Linked DNA regions of Homo sapiens: region 1 is linked to region 2. A link means that fine-mapping ties the variant in region 2 to the plasma level of a protein whose gene starts in the linked region. Region 2 holds a variant in brackets. A gene starts in the other region. All regions are shown on their forward strands. Region 1 holds the start of PRSS53 (serine protease 53). Region 2 overlaps SMIM14 (small integral membrane protein 14).

Evidence for each region. PIP is the chance, under the fine-mapping model, that this variant and not a neighbour inherited with it causes the effect. Protein levels are from antibody-based Olink assays in UK Biobank. Linkage for the fine-mapping came from a reference panel and not from the study's own genotypes, which makes the PIPs less certain.
Region 1: it holds the start of PRSS53, and the variant in region 2 is fine-mapped to the plasma level of the PRSS53 protein (UK Biobank, PIP 0.92).

The regions. Positions count from the first base shown.
Region 1 is chr16:31,083,612-31,092,455 of GRCh38, forward strand. It overlaps PRSS53 (serine protease 53), which reads right to left and starts at 5,332. Exons shown (of 11, transcript NM_001039503.3): 1 at 5,141-5,332; 2 at 4,195-4,215; 3 at 3,926-4,088; 4 at 3,022-3,287; 5 at 2,726-2,880; 6 at 2,353-2,572; 7 at 1,499-1,649; 8 at 1,169-1,413; 9 at 947-1,092; 10 at 508-724; 11 at 1-198. The coding sequence starts at 5,198. The coding sequence ends at 179. It overlaps VKORC1 (vitamin K epoxide reductase complex subunit 1), which reads right to left. Exons shown (of 3, transcript NM_024006.6): 3 at 7,243-7,731. The coding sequence ends at 7,523. ZNF646 (zinc finger protein 646) reads left to right here. Exons shown (of 3, transcript NM_014699.4): 3 at 1-585. RefSeq lists an enhancer at 5,009-5,509.
Region 2 is chr4:39,563,345-39,572,303 of GRCh38, forward strand. All of the region lies in intron 3 of SMIM14 (small integral membrane protein 14), which reads right to left. All of the region lies in intron 2 of UGDH-AS1 (UGDH antisense RNA 1), which reads left to right. Among named protein-coding and RNA genes, the nearest start is that of UGDH-AS1, 40 kb to the left of the region's middle. The variant G/A (reference allele first, on the strand shown) is at 4,185.

The DNA.
Region 1 (8,844 bases), not on the chromosome of region 2:
TGTCCTGCAGGGTGGGGAGTGGGCACCTGTGGCCCCAGGCAGGTTCCTTCCCACAGCTGCTGGGCTTCTGGGCCTGCCCTGGTGCCTGGAATCACACATGACAGGGTGGGGAGGACAGGGGCAGTAATGCCATTTGCCTGCCTGCATTCTCTTGTCCTGAGAATGGCCAGGTCCCCTGTCAGCAGCTGGTTGGTTGGCCTGTGGGGAAGGAAGGAGGGTGGAGTTGTCCTCATCCTCACGGCTTTGGTCCCTCCCTCCCTCCCCATTCCTCGAAGGAACAGGGTCTGTCTTGGCCGCCATGACAGATGAGAATACTGAGGCTCAAAGCGGTTGAGCAGCCTGCTCCAAGTCACACGATGACAAAGAACCAGAATCTGAATCAAATGGGTCTGCCTGTTGCTCCACCCTACCCAAGGCAGCTGGAGTGGGTTAGAACGGCACGTTCTCACTGGAGAGAGAAGGGTCCTGGAGAGGCAGGGTTTGGCAGGAGGCCCCGGGGCCACATACTTATGTTGGCCAGGCAGCTTCCAGGCTCAGCCTCGGGCTCTGGTTCCTCGGCGAAGTAGACCTGCCAGTCCAAACTGCTGACCCAGTCCTCATAGGCAGGGAGCGCGGTGAAGACCGCCGGCCTGGCGGGGCCTTGGCAAGCATCTCCGAAGCTGTGCAGCCCGGCCAGGAACCATGTGCCCCTCACCTCATGCACCAGTGGTGCCCCAGACAGGCCCTGTCAGGGGTCAGGTGACACTGGGTGACTTTTTATAGGCAGCTGTGCAGGACGGTAGAGCAGGCTAGGGAACCTCTGGCTGTTTGGGGGCTAATTGGCAAAAAGGCTTAGTTTCAGGTGGGAGGTGGGTCCAGAGGCCAAGCCTGGAAGGTCCGTTCTTGAGCTATTGGGTGAGGGGATGCCAGGGGCCTGTTAGGTAAGGTGTGGGGGCCTGGGGCTCACCTCACAGCTGGGCAGCTCACCCACAGCACTGGTACACACCATCCCCGGCAGAATAGGGCTGCCATCACCCCCAGGAGCTGCATGCAGCCGGCTGCAGGCCCTAGGCCCCAGGAGGGTCACGGGCACTGTCTGGAGGGAGCTGATGCCTGTGGAGCAAGGGAAAGCTGGCTGCCCCGGCCTGCAGGTTGGATGGACAGCAGCCCTGGCCCTGTGCCCACCTACCTGCTCCTGGGCGGGCCCGTCCCAGAACCCAGCCACGCTCCCCATCAGGCAGGTGGTGGTCAGGATAGGGCAGGCAGAGGGGCCGCAGGCTGGCTCCCAGTGTCACAGGCTGGGCCAGCAGCAGGAGGGCCATGTCGTAGCCCCCCTCAGGGTGGGTGTAGGCTCCATGCAGGATGAGCTGCTTCAGGCCCCACTCCTCCGGTCTGGTCCCCAGCCCTACGCTCCATTCCTCTGGGGCCTGGCGCCTGTGCAGAGGCAGTGTGGACGGCACCAGGTGACAGGGCTGCCGGCAGGGGCAGGGGGCACAGCAGAGAGGGATCCAAGACTCACCCAATGAAGCAGTGGGCAGCAGTTAGCACCGCCTCCTCTGACACCAGGGCTCCGCCACAGGCCAGCTGTCCCTGGTGCATCAGCCTGGCCTCCCAGGGCCATGGGGAGGGTGCTCCTGCCTGGGGACCTGCTGTCCTCAAGGATCCACAGGCTGAAACAGATAAGTGCCTCATCTGACTTCTTGCTAAGCACTTCCCACTTCCCATCAAATCCTCACAGTAGCTTTTGAAATTGAATTTTGTTCCCCTCATTACTGAAGGTAACCAAAGTTCCAGAGAGGTTAAGAGACTTCCTTGCTCTGTAACTACAGGCAAGTGGCAGACTTGCGATTCGCAAGCCAGGGCCTGAGCTTTTAGCCCTGTTGGTCTGATGGGACCCCTGTCCCAGCCTCGTGGGAATGCCCCTACTTGTCACTCCCCTGCTCCACCCGTCTGCACCCTCCAGGATGGGCCTGCCTCCCGTATTCCTGACTCATTAGTGCATCTCTTATCATCAAGACATAATATCCGTCCCAGGAATTACTTTGCATTCAATTTGCATGCCAGTCACTTAATGCCGGAATTCTGACTGGGAGCCCTACCCTGTGCAGGCTCGCTGGGTCCCTGCTGGAAGCCTGCCACTTCCCCAGAAACCCAAGTCAGGTCTCAGAGATTCCTCTTCTCACCTAAACTCCAAACCTGTAGAGTTCCAAAGTGCCTGTGCCTCTCAGCCCTAACAGGGCTGTTCCCATCCCAGGGGGTGAAAGAGCCCCCTAATTAGGCTCGGCGGTGTGGATGCCTATGCCAGTTCTCTAGTCCTAACTGAGGTTTGCTTCACAGTGGCTTCTGCCCACTCCCAGCATGCCCCACTCGTACCTACACAGCTGTCCTCATCACTCATCTCCGGGGTCTCTGGGCTCTGGGCCAGGAAAGCTGCCCCCTGAACTCGAGCCTGCAGCCAGGAACTGTGAGCAGCTGTGTTGGTCAGCAGCACAGGAGCGTCCTCCTGGGCACAGCTTGATGCAAAGCTGATGATGCCAGCCTGAACCCAGTGTCCGTCAGGCTCGAGGCACAGCACAGGGCCCCCGGAATCTCCCTGGAGCCAGGCAACAAAGCCAAGGACAGATGCCTGAGCCCAGCTATGGCAGACACCCTCTGATTGCAGGTCTTTCCCCCAGTCCTGTGAGTCCAACCCCCAGCCCAGGGTTAGGCCCCTCCCCTTCTGCTCCTTCTCTTCTCCCTATCAGACCTGACAGGGGCCCTGCACCCCAGGCTGGGGGCCCCCACATAGCATCCCAGGCCGGGCCGGGTTGGACAGGTGTCGCTGGTGCAGCTGGTTGTAGATACAGTTACATGTGGGGCGACTGATGAGACGCAGGCGCAGATTGCGTAGGGTCCCAGGAGCTGGTGAAAGAGACGGGGCTGGGGCTAGAGTCTGGGATCTGGGAAGCAAGGGAGACTGGAAGCCAGGACAGTTGGGAGCTGAGACTGTGACGCTGGGCAAGCAGAGTGCCTCTCCGAGCTTCAGTCTGGGCCAGCACTTACCATCACTGGTGTCCTGATCCCAGCCAGTGGCCCAGCAGGAGGCTCCAAAGGGGAAGCGATGGGCGGGCTGGGGCAGGCAGAGGGGTGTGTGGGTCGTGGGGTGGGCGAGCTGCAGCAGGGCCAGGTCTGAGCCCTGGCTGTAGTGGTTATAGGCCCTGGGCAACTGCAGGGCAGCCACCCCCACCTCTTCGGCCCCAGGGCTGAGTCCCTCACGCTGCAGAGAACCCAGGACCACTGACCAGGAATTCAGTTCTGTTGCTGCTGCCCTGGAAGGGGAAGGACAAGGTCCAGGCTGCTGAGTGCAAGGGTAGACAGTGACACCATGGGAGACCCCACAGGTAGGTGGAAGATAGCAGAGAGCACTCCACGGCTTTTTCTTTTTGAGGTAGGGTCTCGTCCTGTCGCCCAGGCTGCAGTGCAGTGGCATGACCATGACTCACTACAAGCCTTGACCTCCCAGGCTCAAGCGATCCTCCCACCTCAGCCTCGTGAGTAGCTGGGACTACAGGCGTGCACCACCATGCCTGGCTAATTTTACAGTTTTTGTAGAGACATGGTCTTGCTATGTTGCACAGGCTAGTCTTGAACTCTTGGGCTCAAGCGATCCTCCCTCCGTGGCCTCCCAAAGGGCTGGGATTACAAGCGTGAGCTACTGTGCCCGGCCTCAGTCTGTGACTTTAAGCGAGGTCATTCCCTTGCAACCTGAGTTTTCTGATTTGTAAATCTTCTACCATGAAAGGTGGTTGTTACAATTAACTTGACAATATGTACCCAGTACATGGCAGATTCTCAGTAAATGGTTCTTTATTATTACTCTAGAGGCAGGGACTAGCCTTGTGGGGCTTGAGACAAATTGTCCACTCCCCAGAGCCGGAGACCCTGCCTGACCCCAGCCATGACTTACTTTTCAAAGCAGTGGGCAGCAGTGAGGACCCAGGTGTCTGCCACCAGGGAGCCGCTGCAGATGTGGGCTCCTTGCCTCCTCACACTGGCCTGCCAGGGCCACTCGCCAGGGACTGTGTTGCCCTCCTGAGGCTTGGGGGGGCCGGGGCCACGCTGTCCACAGGCTGTGGAAAGGAGTTAGTCACACTGACAGCAGATACCTGTCCTGACCTCACCCCAGTCCCAACCCAGACCCAAGTAAGACCTAGGCCCCGTGTCCCCAGACCTTACCACGCTGAGCGGCTTGAAGACCTGGGAAGAGAGAGACACAGGTAAGATGCAGGGACTCCAGGCCTGCCTAGCTTTGGGGAGGAGAGGGGATGGGCTGGGGGGCGGGCCCAGGGTCCTTGCCTGTGACTCTGATTACCTTACCAGCCCCTCCCAGAATGAAAATATTTATATGAGGCCGAGACAGCTTTTATTGGAACCTATTCAGTGTGCACACTCAGTAATTAATTCTCCTTCAGCTGTGCTCAGCACTCTGGGGCTTGGGGTTCAGCTTGGGAGTAGGCCAGCCCTCCTCCAGGCTTCAGAACCCCCAACTCCTGCCCCCGCCACTGAGTCAGCCAGGCGGCCTGTGTGTGTAGAGAGCATTAGCTTAATTGTCCTCTTAGCAGCAGAGGCCTAAGAGGAAGGATTAGAGGCCTGCATCATTTCCAAGTGGGGAGGGCCCCAAGAAATGGAGACTTACCTCACCCTGGTCTAGAGACTCAGTCTTCCCCACCTTCCCAGAAACTGTCTGAGAGCCCGCCAGAGAGAGGGCCCCTGCCCACCGCCCCTCACAGGCACACAGGCACCCCATGAGACAGCTGAGCCAGGCTGCCCAGAGGATGGATGAAAAGAAAGGGAAACTGAGGCCAGAGGAGCCCAGAGTTTGCCTGACGTCATTGTGGAAGTCGAGGGGGAGGCAGGCACAGGACACACGCAGGCAGCACCTCACACACACACAAGACCACAGGCCCCGCCAACGCAAACTGCAGCTGGCCCGAGAAAATCTCATCCATGTTGACACAGGTGGCCACATATACCACCCCACAGAGTCCTACGGAGTTACATCCCCACTGGTGGACTGTCGCCCACAGGCGGTCCCCCCACCAAGAAGCAGGGACTGCTGGGGCAGAGATGGCCCCTGAGCCCCCACCAGGCCACACCCATACCCCAGCACATGGCGGCTTACCCTCCATGAGGACTGTGGCACCCGCGATGAGCAGCACTGGGCCCCAGCACCACTTCATGCTGCCCCGGGCCACTCTGCCACCTGTGCTCCACTCTGAGAGAGGCCACCTGGGTCTCCCTGGCTCCACCTCTGCTCCACCTCCAGTTGGCTAGGATTCAGCTGTCTGCTTGCCCTAGCCAGCAGTTCCTAGCTCTGGGGCTGTGGCTGTGTGACCCTAGGCTTGTCACCACCCCTCTCTGGGCCTTAGCCGTGGAGCCAAATTGTCTGGGTTTAAATCTGTTTCCTTACTACTTGAGTGGCCTGGGAGAGCTAACCTGCCTGTGCCTTGTCTGAGAAACAGTTGTTGAATGGAAAACGTCTCAATGACAGCCTGGCACAGGGCAAGCTCACTCCCAGCATGAAAGTGCCATCCTGGAACCATGGAGGGCACGTGGGCAGCTCCTCCCAGTCCCCACTTTTCATTTCCACTCCCCCACTTCTCTTCCAGCCAGGGCTAGGTGGGTTTCACATGCCTTCTCCCAGGTCTGCTCAGAGACAGTGTGTGCCAGGCTGAGTGGTGAGGAGCCAGCACCCACTGCTGCTTGCTCGCTGTGAGCCTTTGGCAAATCCCAGTATCTCCCTGGGCCTGCTGGCTTCCTGGGAAACAGGGTGACAGCGGTGCCCACCTTCCTCATAGGCGCAGAGGACTCGGTCAGGCGGGAAGAACACTTTGGCGCGTGCCTCCTCTTCCTCTTCCCACTCCTAACTCAGGCTGGCCCAGACCATTCAAGAACCCTGACCCCAAGACAGAGGCAGCTGTGGGTAAGGTTTAGCATATATTATAGATGCTGGCCGGGCATGGTGGCTCACGCCTGTAATCCCAGCACTTTGGGAGGCCAAAGCAGGCAGATCACCTGAGGTCGGGAGTGCGAGACCAGCCTGACCAACATAGAGAAACACTGTCTCTACTAAAAATACAAAATTAGCCAGGCCTGGTGGCGCATGCCTGTAATCCCAGCTACTCGGGAGGCTGAGGCAGGAGAATCACTTGAACCTGGGAGGTGGAGGTTGTGGTGAGCCGAAATTGTGCCATTGCACTCCAGCCTGGACAACAAGAGCGAAAGTCCGTCTCAAAAACAAACCAACAAAAAAAAAAGCATATAGATGCTGGAGCCAGATGGACCAGGTGGATTCAAATCCTGAGAGCCTCCTGCAGTAGCTGTGTGATCTCAGGCATACTAATTAGCCACTCTGTCCCTATCATCAAGATAGGGATAATAATAGTACCCACCTCATAAATCACTGTAAAGATTAAACGAGTTTAACACGTTAACACAAGTTTTTTTTTGTTTTTTGTTTTTTTTTGGAGACGGTCTTGCTCTGTTGCTCAGGCTGGAGTGCAGTGATCATGGCTCACTGCAGCCTCAACCTTCTGGGCTCAAGCAGTCTTCCCGCCAGCTTCCCGATTAGTTGGGACTATAGGTACATACACCACCATGCCTGGCTAATTTTTTTTTTTTTTTTTTTTTGTAGAGACAGGGGTCTCACTATTTTGCCCAGGCTGGTCTGGAACTCCTGGCCTCAAGTGATCCTCCTGCCTTGGCCTCCCAAAGTACAGGGATTACAGGTGTGAGCCACTGCACCCTGCCAACACAAGTTCTTAAACAGTGCTTGGCATGTAGGTAAGTGGTCAGGGCATAATAGGCAAAACAAAAACCTTCACAACCTGGCCCTGACCCTCCAAGGCTACCAATACTGGCTTGGAATGGTCGATAAGGCAACTGGAGGGGTTAAAGTTAAACTCAAGGAAGAACTTCCCAGCAAGCATTTACAGAACCAGAAGGGCAGCCTGCCCTTCCAGGTGTGTGCTCAGCCTTCCCAGGAGAGGAGGCCTGGCTCCTGTGGGCAGCAGGAGCGAGCTGCCAGCCTGTTTCCTGGGGGTGGGGGCCAATGGTGCCCCAGGCCTTGCTGACTCCACACACTGGAGATGAGACTACCCATAACCACCCTTCCCAGCAGGCCCTCCACTCTCCCTCTGACTCACCCTTCCCAGCTCCAGAGAAGGCAACACCGAGGGAGGCCCAGCACCACAGTCCATGGCAGACACATGGTTCAGACTTGGCTGATTGATCTAAGAAACTTTATTGCTCAGAACCTTCCCTCCCTGGGCAATGGAAAGAGCTTTGGAGACCAGCCCATGGGGACAGAGTCAGAGGCACTGGGTGTAAAAAAGAGCGAGCGTGTGGCACATTTGGTCCATTGTCATGTGCGGGTATGGCAGGAGGAGGGGGTAATCTAGAAGCCCCACATCTAGGGCCTTCTAGGGACCCAGATATGCCCCCTTAGGCAAGGCTCACATGCCAAAGCAAAGCAGATGAGGTCAGCCTGGCTTGGGTTGAGGGCTCAGTGCCTCTTAGCCTTGCCCTGGGGTTCTTGGACCTTCCGGAAACTGAGCCACATCAGGCTCACGTTGATAGCATAGGTGGTGATACAAACAATGCAGAAATCATAGAGCACGAAGAACAGGATCCAGGCCAGGTAGACAGAACCAGCGAGAGACACCAGGGAGCTCAGCAGCATCAGGACAGAGGCCCAGCGTGTCCGCAGGCAACCTGCAAGGCAGAAGAGGGTCCGGTGTGGGCTTCAGGCACTGGCCACCTCCCGAACACTCCATGATGTCACTGCACTACCTAGATGCCAGGAGCTGCTGGGAAGGGTCTCTAAAACAAGAGGCTCCAGGGCAGATGTGGTGGCTTACGCACGTATTCCAAACACTCTGGGAGGCCGAGGTGGGAAGACTGCTTTAGGCTAGGAGTTCAAGACCAGCTTGGGCAACATAGAAAGACCCGATCTCTATCAAAAATTTAGAAATTCAGCTGGGCACGGTGGCTCATGCCTGTAATCCCAGTATTTTGGGAGGCCAATGGGGGTGGATCACCTGAGGTTAGGAGTTCGAGAGCAGCCTGGCCAACATGGCAAAACCCCATCTCTAATAAAAATACAAAAATTAGCCGGGTGTGTTGATGGGCACCTGTAATCCCAGCTGCTGGGGAGGCTAAGGTGGAGAATCGCTTGAACCTAGGAGGTGGAGGTTGCAGTGAGCCGAGATCATGCCACCACATTCCAGCTTGGGCAGCAAGAGCAAGACTTCGTCTCAAAAAAAAAATGCCCGGTGAGGTTGACTCACGCCTGTAATCCTAGCACTTTGGGAGGCCAAGGCGGATGGATCACCAGGTCAAGAGATTGAGACCATCCTAGCCAACATGGTGAAACCCTGTCTCCACTAAAAATACAAAAATTAGCTGGGCGTGGTGACACGCGCCTGTAGTCCCAGCTACTCAGGAGGCTGAGGCAGGAAAATTGCTTGAACCCGGGAGGCAGAGGTTGCAGTGAGCCAAGATCGTGCCACTGCACTCCAGCCTGGTGACAGAGCGAGACTATGTCGCAAAAAAAAAAAAAAAAAAAAAAAAAAAATTAGCTGGGTGCAGTGACATGCCTATAGTCCTAGCTACTCAGGAGGATCGCTTGAGCCAGGTTACAGTGAGCTATGATTGTGCCACTGCACTCCAGCCTGGGCAACAGAGCAAGATTATTTCTTAAAAAAAAAAAAAAAGAAGGCTTCAACAGGTCCCCTCCAAGGGACTGGTCTCTGAAGCTCTTGCCATTGCCCAGGGAGGGAAAGTTCTGAGCAATAAAATTTCTTAAATAAATCGGCCAAGTCTGAA
Region 2 (8,959 bases):
AGCCACCGCCCCCGGCCCCTCTTCTTTCTCTAGCCAAGGATTCCCTGGCCTGGCTATGCATCAGAATAGCCTGTGACAGTATCAACACCACAGATTCTAAGGCACTGCCTAAGACCATCTGATTCAGGAGCAGCTTCGGGGTGGGATCAGGAGCCAACAATATTTTTTAAAAGCTTTCCAAATGAATCTGATGCAACAGTTGAATGCGAACTTGTCTGGCAGCATTTGCCAACTATGCAAATTCAGTCTTCCTGGGGTACTCGTTATTTCCCTGTCTGGCATGTTCTTACAACTAACTCCATTTATTCACCTATAACCTACATCCCTCTTCCATAAAAATCTCCATTTCCTCCACCCACTTTTTCCTCTGCCTTCTCTGGACTAGTATAGCATTTCTAGTTTGAAGGAATGGTTTCCCGTCTCTCCTAATTAACTTTTTAAGAACTGAGACCATCTCATAGCTGTTTGACTGTACCACCTCTTAGGTATATAATCCCTGAGCCTCAAGTTTCTTTTTCTTTTTTCTTTCTCCTCTTCCTCCTCCTCCTCTTCTTCTTCCCCTTCTCTTCCTCTTCTTCTTCTTCTTCTATTATTATTATTTTGAGACGGAGTCTTGCTCTGTCACCAGGCTGGAGTGCAGTGGCACCATCTTGGCTCACTGCAACCTCCGCCTCCCAGTTTCAAGCAATTCCCCTGCCTCACAAATAAAATGCCAAATGGAATATTCACAATGAAGCTGTTAACTTAGCTGGATACCAAGAGGATGAAAAGGTAGAGACAGAGGCTCTAAGAGCTGGCCCATCCTCAGAAGATTATTTGTATAAACTTATATAGGTTTCCGCTGGGGAAAGCAAAAACAGAACAGCAGTGAAAGTGGACAATACACCGGTATGCTCTAACCCTGTAGTTTTTGGTCCTATACAGTAATTACATTATCCTAAGCACAGCTACCAGTTTTCAAGCTGAGTCAAGGGTGATCTCTATCATTCCCTAATGTAGATCTGTTATTCTCCTACAGGCTGAGTATTCCTACTCTAAAAATCTAGAATCCTCCAAAATCCAAAACTTTTTGAGAGCTGACATCATGCTCAAAAGAAATGCTTATCGGAACATTTCACATTTTCAGGTTAGGGATGGTCAACTGGTAAATGAATCTGAAAAAATCTGAAACTGAATACACTTCTGGCTCCAAGCATTTCAAATAAGGGATATTCAACCTATACTTTCATATTGTGTTCTGCGAGGGTGCCCCATAGTGTTATTTCAGATTAGCGTTTTTTAGATAAAGATAACCTGAATGGAAAGCATCCTCTCTTTTGTTTAAAGGATTCTATTAAAAATGAAATACATGACTTTTAAGCAGGGGGCTAAGGGAAGCCTCACTAAGAAGGCACTCTGGAGTGAAAATGTAAAGAAAGTGAGGCTGTCAGTTGTGAGATTATCCGAAAGAAGCACATTTCAGGCACAAGGAACAGCGAGAACTCCTGATTCAGGAGCCTGTGGGATGTTCATGGAGGCCAATGTGGCTGAAGTGAAGTGACCTGGGATTGGTGGTATAGTGAGGTGGGATATAAGAAAAAGATTAAGCTGGGTGTGGTGGCTCACGCCTGTAATCCCAGCACTTTGGGAAGCTGAGGTGGGAGAATCACTTGAGGCCAGGAGTTCAAGACCAGCCTTGGCAACATAATGAGGTCCTATCTCTACAAAATAAAAAACAAACAAAATCAGCCAAGTGTGGTGGCACACACCTGTGGTCCCAGCTAATCAGGAGGCTGAGGTGGGAGGATTGCTTGAGCCCAAGGGGTTGAGGTTGCAGCAAGCCATGATTGCACCACTTTACTCCAGCCTGGGCAACAGAGTAAGACTTTGTCTCCAGAAAAGAAAAGAAAAAGATTAAATCAAAAGAGTAACAGGATTCAGATCATGTTGGCCTTATAGGTCATAATAAGCTTCTATTACATATTAAATAGAAAACCACTGAAGAGGGCTTTTCTTTTTTTTGGACAGGGTCTCACTCTGTCACCCAGGTTGGAGTGCAGTGGCTCAATTACAGTCACTGCAGCCTCAACCTCCCAGGCTCAAGTGATCTCCTAACTCAGCATCCAGAGTAGCTGGGGCATAGGCACAGGCCACCACGCCTAGCTAAGTTTTATATTTTTTGTAGAGACAGGATTTCAACATGTTGCCTATGCTGGTCTTGAACTCCTGAGCCCAAGTGATCTGCCTGCTTTGGCCTCCTAAAATGGGATTACAAGTGTGATCCACTGTGCCCAGACACCACTGAAGAGTTCTGAGCAAAATGCAGATGATATCTGACTCTCATTTTGACAGAACCACTCCATCTGTTGTGTTTTGAAAAACGAGAAACAGAAACACAGTGATATGGTTTGGCTGTGTCCCATCCCAAATTTCATCTTGAATTGTAACTCCCACAATTCCCATATGTCATGGGAGGAACCTGGTGGGAGGTGATTGAATTATGGGGGGCGGGCCTTTCCTGCGCTCTTCTCATGATAGTAAACAAGTCTCACGAGATCTCATGGTTTTAAAAAGGGGAGTTTCCCTGCACAAGCTCTCTTCTCTTGACTGCCACCATGTAAGACATGCCTTTCACCTTCCGCCATGATTGTGAGGCCTCCCCAGACATGTGGAATTGTAAGTCCAATAAACCCTTTTCTTTCGTAAATTGCCCTGTCTTGGGTATGTCTTAAATTAGCAGTGTGAAGACTGACTAATACAGACAGTTAAGAACCTGTTGCAATAATCTATTAACATACGAGATGATGATGGCCTAGAACAGGGAGGAGGCAGTGGGATAGTGAGAAGTGGTAGAATTTTGGATGTATCTTCAAGATAGTGCTTGCTGATAGATGACTGGACAGTGTGAGAAAAAGGGAAGCCAAGGATGAGTCTCAGAAGGATAGAACTGCCATTAACTGTTATAGGAAGGATCTCAAGAGAAGCAGAAATTCTGAAGATGTTGAATTTGAGGTGCCTTGTTAGACATCCCAGTGGAAATGCCCAAAAGACAGTCATCAGCATACAAGTAATGAGTCATGAGACCAGATGAGATCACCAAGTGAGTGAATGTCTAGAAAAGGAAATAATCCAGGGGCTAAGTCCTGGAGCATTCCAAGGATAAAAGTTAAGAGGTCTGGAGGACAGACAGACGCACCGAGAAAGAAGACAGCAGATAGCCGCAATGCAGCCAGGCACAATGGCTCATGCCTGTAATCCCAGCACTTTGGGAGGCTGAGGTGGGTGGATCACCTGAGGTCAGGAGTTCAAGACCAGCCTCGGCAACATACAGAAACCCTGTCTCTACTAAAAATACAAAAATTAGGCCAGGCGTGGTGGCTCACGCCTATAATCCCAGCACTTTGGGAGGCCATGGCAGGCGGATCATGAGGTCAAGAGATCGAGACCATTTTGGCCAACATGGTGAAACCCTGTCTCTACTAAAAGTACAAAAATTAGCCAGGCGTGGTGGCGTGCACCTGTAGTCCCAGCTACTCGGGAGGCTGAGGCAGGAGAATCGCTTGAACCTGCGAGGTGGAGGTTGCAGTGAGCTGAGATTGTACCACTACACTCCAGCCTGGTGACAGTGTGAGACTCCATCTCAAAAAAAACAAAAAACAAAAATTAGCTGGGGATGCTGGTACACGCTTGTAATCCCAGCTACTTGGGAGGCTGAGGCAGGAGAACTGCTTGAGTCCAGGAGGTGGAGGTTGTAGTAAGCCGAGATTGCGCCATTGCACTCCAGCCTGGGCGACAGAGCAAAACTCCATCTCAAAAAAAGAAAAAAAAAAAAAAAAAAAAAAAAAAGGAAGCCGCAATGTGACAATAGGAAAAAAATGTGACATGGGAAATATGGAGAAGATTTAGTTATTAAAGGCTGAAACTAGATAATTTCTCAGATTACAACTTTATCAGGAAGAAGCAGAAGGCTAAGAATTGTATGCTAAGTACTCAAAATGGGCCAGGTGTGGCAGCTCATGCCTGTAATCCCTGCACTTTGGGAGGCCAAGGCAGGTGGACTGCTTGAGCTCAGGAGTTCGAGACCAGCCTGGGCAACATGCAAAACCCTGTCTCTACAAAAAATACAAAAATTAGGCCGGGCATGGTGGCTCACACCTGTAATCCCAGCACTTTGGGAGGTTGAGGTGGGCGGATCACGAGGTCAG[G/A]AGTTCGAGACCAGCCTGGCCAACATGGCGAAACCCCATCTCTACTAAAAATACAAAAATTAGCCGGGTGTGGTGGCAGGCGCCTATAATCCCAGCTACTCAGGAGGCTGAGGCAGGAGAATCGCTTGAACCTGGGAGGTGGAGGTTGCAGTGAGCTGAGATCATGCCATTGCACTCCAGCTTGGGCAACAAGAGCAAGACTCCGTCTCAAAAGAAAGGAAAAAAAAAATTAGCTGGGCATGGTTGTATGCTCCTGTAGTCCCAGCTACTCAGGAGGCTGAAGTGGGAGGATTACTGAGCCTGGAAGGTCAAGATTCAGTGAGCCCTGTTTGCTCCACTGCACTCAAGCCTGGGTGACAAAGTGAGACCCTGTCTCAAAACAAAACAAAAAACAAACAAAAACACCCCAAACCATATTCAGTGCCAAATGTTAAAGCCCAAATAGATTGTATAAATAAGAACATACAGGCCGGGCGCGGTAGCTCACGCCTGTAATCCCAGCACTTTGGGAGGCGGAGGTGGGTGGATCACTTGAGGTCAGGAGTTTGAGATCAGCCTGGCCAACATGGCGAAACCCTATCTCTACTAAAAATACAAAAAATTAGCCAGGTGTGGTAGTGCATTCCTGTAATCCTGGCTACTTGGGAGGCTGAGGCAGGAGAATAGCTTGAGCCTGGGAGGCGGAAGTTGCAGTGAGCCAAGATTGTGCCACTACACTCCAGCCTGGGCAACAGAGCAAGACTCCTTCTCAAAAAAAAAAAAAAGAACATATACATGTATATATTTCTCCACCATTTACTCTTTGGTCTGTGTTTTAACAACATTGACTCTACCTAGCAGCTGCTTCTATGACTAAATGAATAAATGATATTTCTGATATCACAATGATTAAACACTGTTCTAAAACAATGGAATAACACCTATGAAAAGGGGAAGAGTAAAAAAATAAGACAATGGAATATATACAAAATACAACTACAGAAATAAAAGGCAGAAATGAACGAAAGCAACCAATTTAAAAAAGTCAGAAGAGAATAAAACGTATTTCTTCAAGGCTTATTTCAATTCTTAAGAAGCCTCAAATTCCCACGATCCTAAAACATATATTTAATTTTAAAAAATAACTTTTTCCAATTGAATAGTAGCACAATACTATCCAATTGAATAGTAGTATCTAAATATAAAGATAGCTACAAAATATGTTTTATTATTTTAAGAAAAAAGTATAAGCTCACTGGAGAAAATTTAGAATATAAGAAAAATAATTCTATCCCTCACAGTAAACTACTGTTTAACCATTTAAAAGCCTAGCTCTCAGAAAGGATTTTTACCAACTGCTAAAAGAACTGGGGGGAAAGAAAAACTTGCCAATATGCCTAAATGAATGTTCAAAGTTTCACCTTTCTTTTTAGAGTTAGGAAGTGACATTTTACCCACAGGAATGACTATATTTGGTTATAGGCGGGGCTGGTTAAAGAGTCACAAAAGCCGCACATGTAATAAACACGTGTTTTCCCATGGGGAGGTTCAATAAAATTATTTTCAACTAGGAAAACAGGTTTTAGCTTTACCTGTTGAGGCAAATATTTGAGCTGTACATTGTAGATTAATGAATGCTACTGGAGAAGTAAAGAAGTCTGGAGGGAGGGAACCACCACCCATTGTCCTAACAATGCACATTTCTATTGCTTTCTTGTCTTGAAGGCATATATATCACCCAAATGGACTAGGTTCCCACAAAATTTCTACTTTAGGCTAGGCACTGCACTAGCTCCCACTTCTCTAAGCTGTTATATCTGTGGAATTTGATGGGACACCCAGTACACAAAGTAATAAAAATCATAATGTATAACAAGTCTCTTTACAATTACCTTACTGCGTCTTGTTTCAGTTTCATATATATAATAAACAGGCAGCTCTGCTTCAGAGATGTTACGTATCAGCAACTAACCTACTAATAAATGCAATTTGGCAATATGTAAATAGCCTTAAAATGTGTGAAGAAAACCAGAACGTATCACTCCAAAATATGCCTTTTTGACATAGAAATTATTTTGGAGAAGCCAGGCACGGTGGCTCATGCCTGTAATCCCAGCTACTTGGGAGGTTGAGGCACTAGAATTGCCTGAACCTGGGTGGCGGAGGTTGCAGTGAGTTGAGACTGAGCCACTGCACTCCAGCCTGGGCGACAAAGCGAGACTCTGTCTCAAAAAAAAAAGAAAAAAAGAAAAAAAGAAATTATTTTTGAGCTGTAGGCAATTAGGAAGTAGCAAACAGAAGAAAAGCTCCCTCTATTCCCCTCTTTTCTGCCTAAAGGTAGGATACAAATTCTCCTTTATACACAACCCTACAGACTTAATAGTCCAGAGACAGCACCAGAGGAGTCTATAAACAAACCTTACTCCATTAGTTTCCTCCCAAATATTTACTTTCCCAGTTTCCTATCCTTGGAAGCCTAAAATCTCTTTCCTATGTTCTGCCCTTTTTCCACAAATGTATTGTTCTTTGTTGAAGATGCTACATAAGCCAGAGTTCTGAGCCACTGCTTTGAGTTACTTTGCATTGAGCTTTCTCCCATGTGATGCCACACACATTAATAAATTTGCTTTTTCCTTGTTCATCTATCTTTTTTTTGTTTTTTTTTCTTTGTTTTAGAGAGTCTCGCCCTGTCACCCAGGCTGGAGTGCAGTGGTGTGATCGCAGCTTACTGCAACCTCTGCCTCCTGGGTTCAAGTGATTCTGGTGCCTCAGCCTCCAGAGCAGCTGGGACTACAGGCACGTGCCACCACGCCCAGCTAATTTTTGTATTTTTAGTAGAGACAGGGTTTCCATGTTGGCCAGGCTGGTCTCAAACTCCTGGCCTCAACTGATCTGGCCACCTCAGCCTCCCAAAATTCTAGGATTACAGGCGTGAGCCACCGTGCCCGGCAATCTATCCTTTGTTACAGGGTGTCTCAGCAAAGAACTCTGAGGTTGAAGAAAAAATTATTTGTCCTCCCCAACATATGCACACAAAGAATGTTTATTCAAGTGTTGTTTATAATAGCAAAAAATATATCAGCAACCTAAGGTTCTAGTAAAAGGAAATCATTTAAACGCTGGTGCTTCCCCACAATGAATTATTATTTAATTAATAATTTTTTTTTGAGATGGGATCTCACTTTGTCATCCAGGCTGGAGTGCAGTGGCATGAACATAGCTCACTGCAGCCTCAAACTCCTGGGCTCAAGTGATCCTTCTGCCTCAGCCTCCCAAGTAGCCGGGACTCCAGGAGCATGACACCATGCCTGGCTCAATAAATAGTAAGACAAATATATGTTGATATTTTATAAGTAGTGAAAAATAACATATACAATGTGATCCCATTTCTGTAAGTTTATATGAAATCTAATTATGCCAGGCTTCACCATCTTGTGAATGTCATACTTTCCTTCTTGCAGTCTTCTGATACAAGACTGGATTGGTTTAAATACTATTTTACTAGTTCCCCTTAAAGCATCTCTCAAAATATTTCTGAGTATCCTGAAAAAAGATGTGTCACATAATGGTCACTAAGTCTGTCACCTACATATACCATGCAATATTCATCTTCCTACTGATTCTCACTTTACCATCACTACTGCCCATAAAGCCATGTGGAGAAACTTCTCCACTGCCAAATTCTCTGATGCGCATGTTAATGTCAGAGCCAAAGGAATGAACTCCACAGGCACCCAAAGTTTCCACACATGGAAAAGAATGGCCTCCCCACCAAGAAGTTCTCAAGTGGCTGGGCATGGTGACTCACGCCTGTAATCCAAGCACTTTGAGAGGCCGAGGCAGAAGGATCACTTGATCCCAGGAGTTTAAGACCCATGTGGGCAACATGGGAAGACCGTGACTCTACAAAAAATTCTAAAAAATTAGCCATGCATGGTGGTGCATCCCTGTAGTCCCACCTACTAGGGAGGCTGAGGTGGGAGGATCACTTGAGCCTGGGAGGTCAAGGCTGCAGTGAGCCATGATCGCACAATTGCGCTCAGTGTGGGCGACAAAGCAAGACACTGTTTCTTAAAAAAAAATTTTTTTAAATTAAAGAAAAAAAAAGAATTCTCAAGCCTGCCAACAGATGCAAATAGATGTTAGGGAGAGAGTGAATGGTTTGCGCAAGCAGCTTTGATGTCCCAGTTACACCTGCCCACAGTGCCCTGTTACAGACTTATTTGCCAAGAAAAAAAGACTAGGATATACCCGAATTTGTCAACAGTGGTTATCTTTAACTATTCTGGAAGTTCTTCTATTTTTTTTTTTTGAGACAGGGTCTCACTCCAGTCACCCAGGTTGGAGTGCAGTGGTGCGATCACAGCTCACTGCAGCCTCAACCTCCCCAGGCTCAGGTGATCCTCCCACCTCAGCCTCAGGAGTAGCTGGGGCTGCAGGCATGCACCACCATGCCCCACTAATTTTTGTATTTTTTGTAGAGACAGGGTTTCCCCGTGTTGCCCAGGGTAATCTCAAACTCCTGGACTCAAACGATCCACCGGCCTCAGCTTCCCAAAGTGCAAGGATTCCAGGTGTGAGCCACTGCACCCAGCCTTTTTTTTTCCTTATACTTATTTTATAATGTTCTGCAATAAGCAGGGTTTTTGAGGCATGAAAAAAATTTTAAGTTAAAAAATGAAATAGTCAAGTAGCAAATACATTACTGAGAACCATTTTCTTATTAAAGAGCAAACTATGAGAATAATTTCTTTTGTGCGTATGTGTCGCTTTTTTTTTTTTTTTTTTTTTTTTTG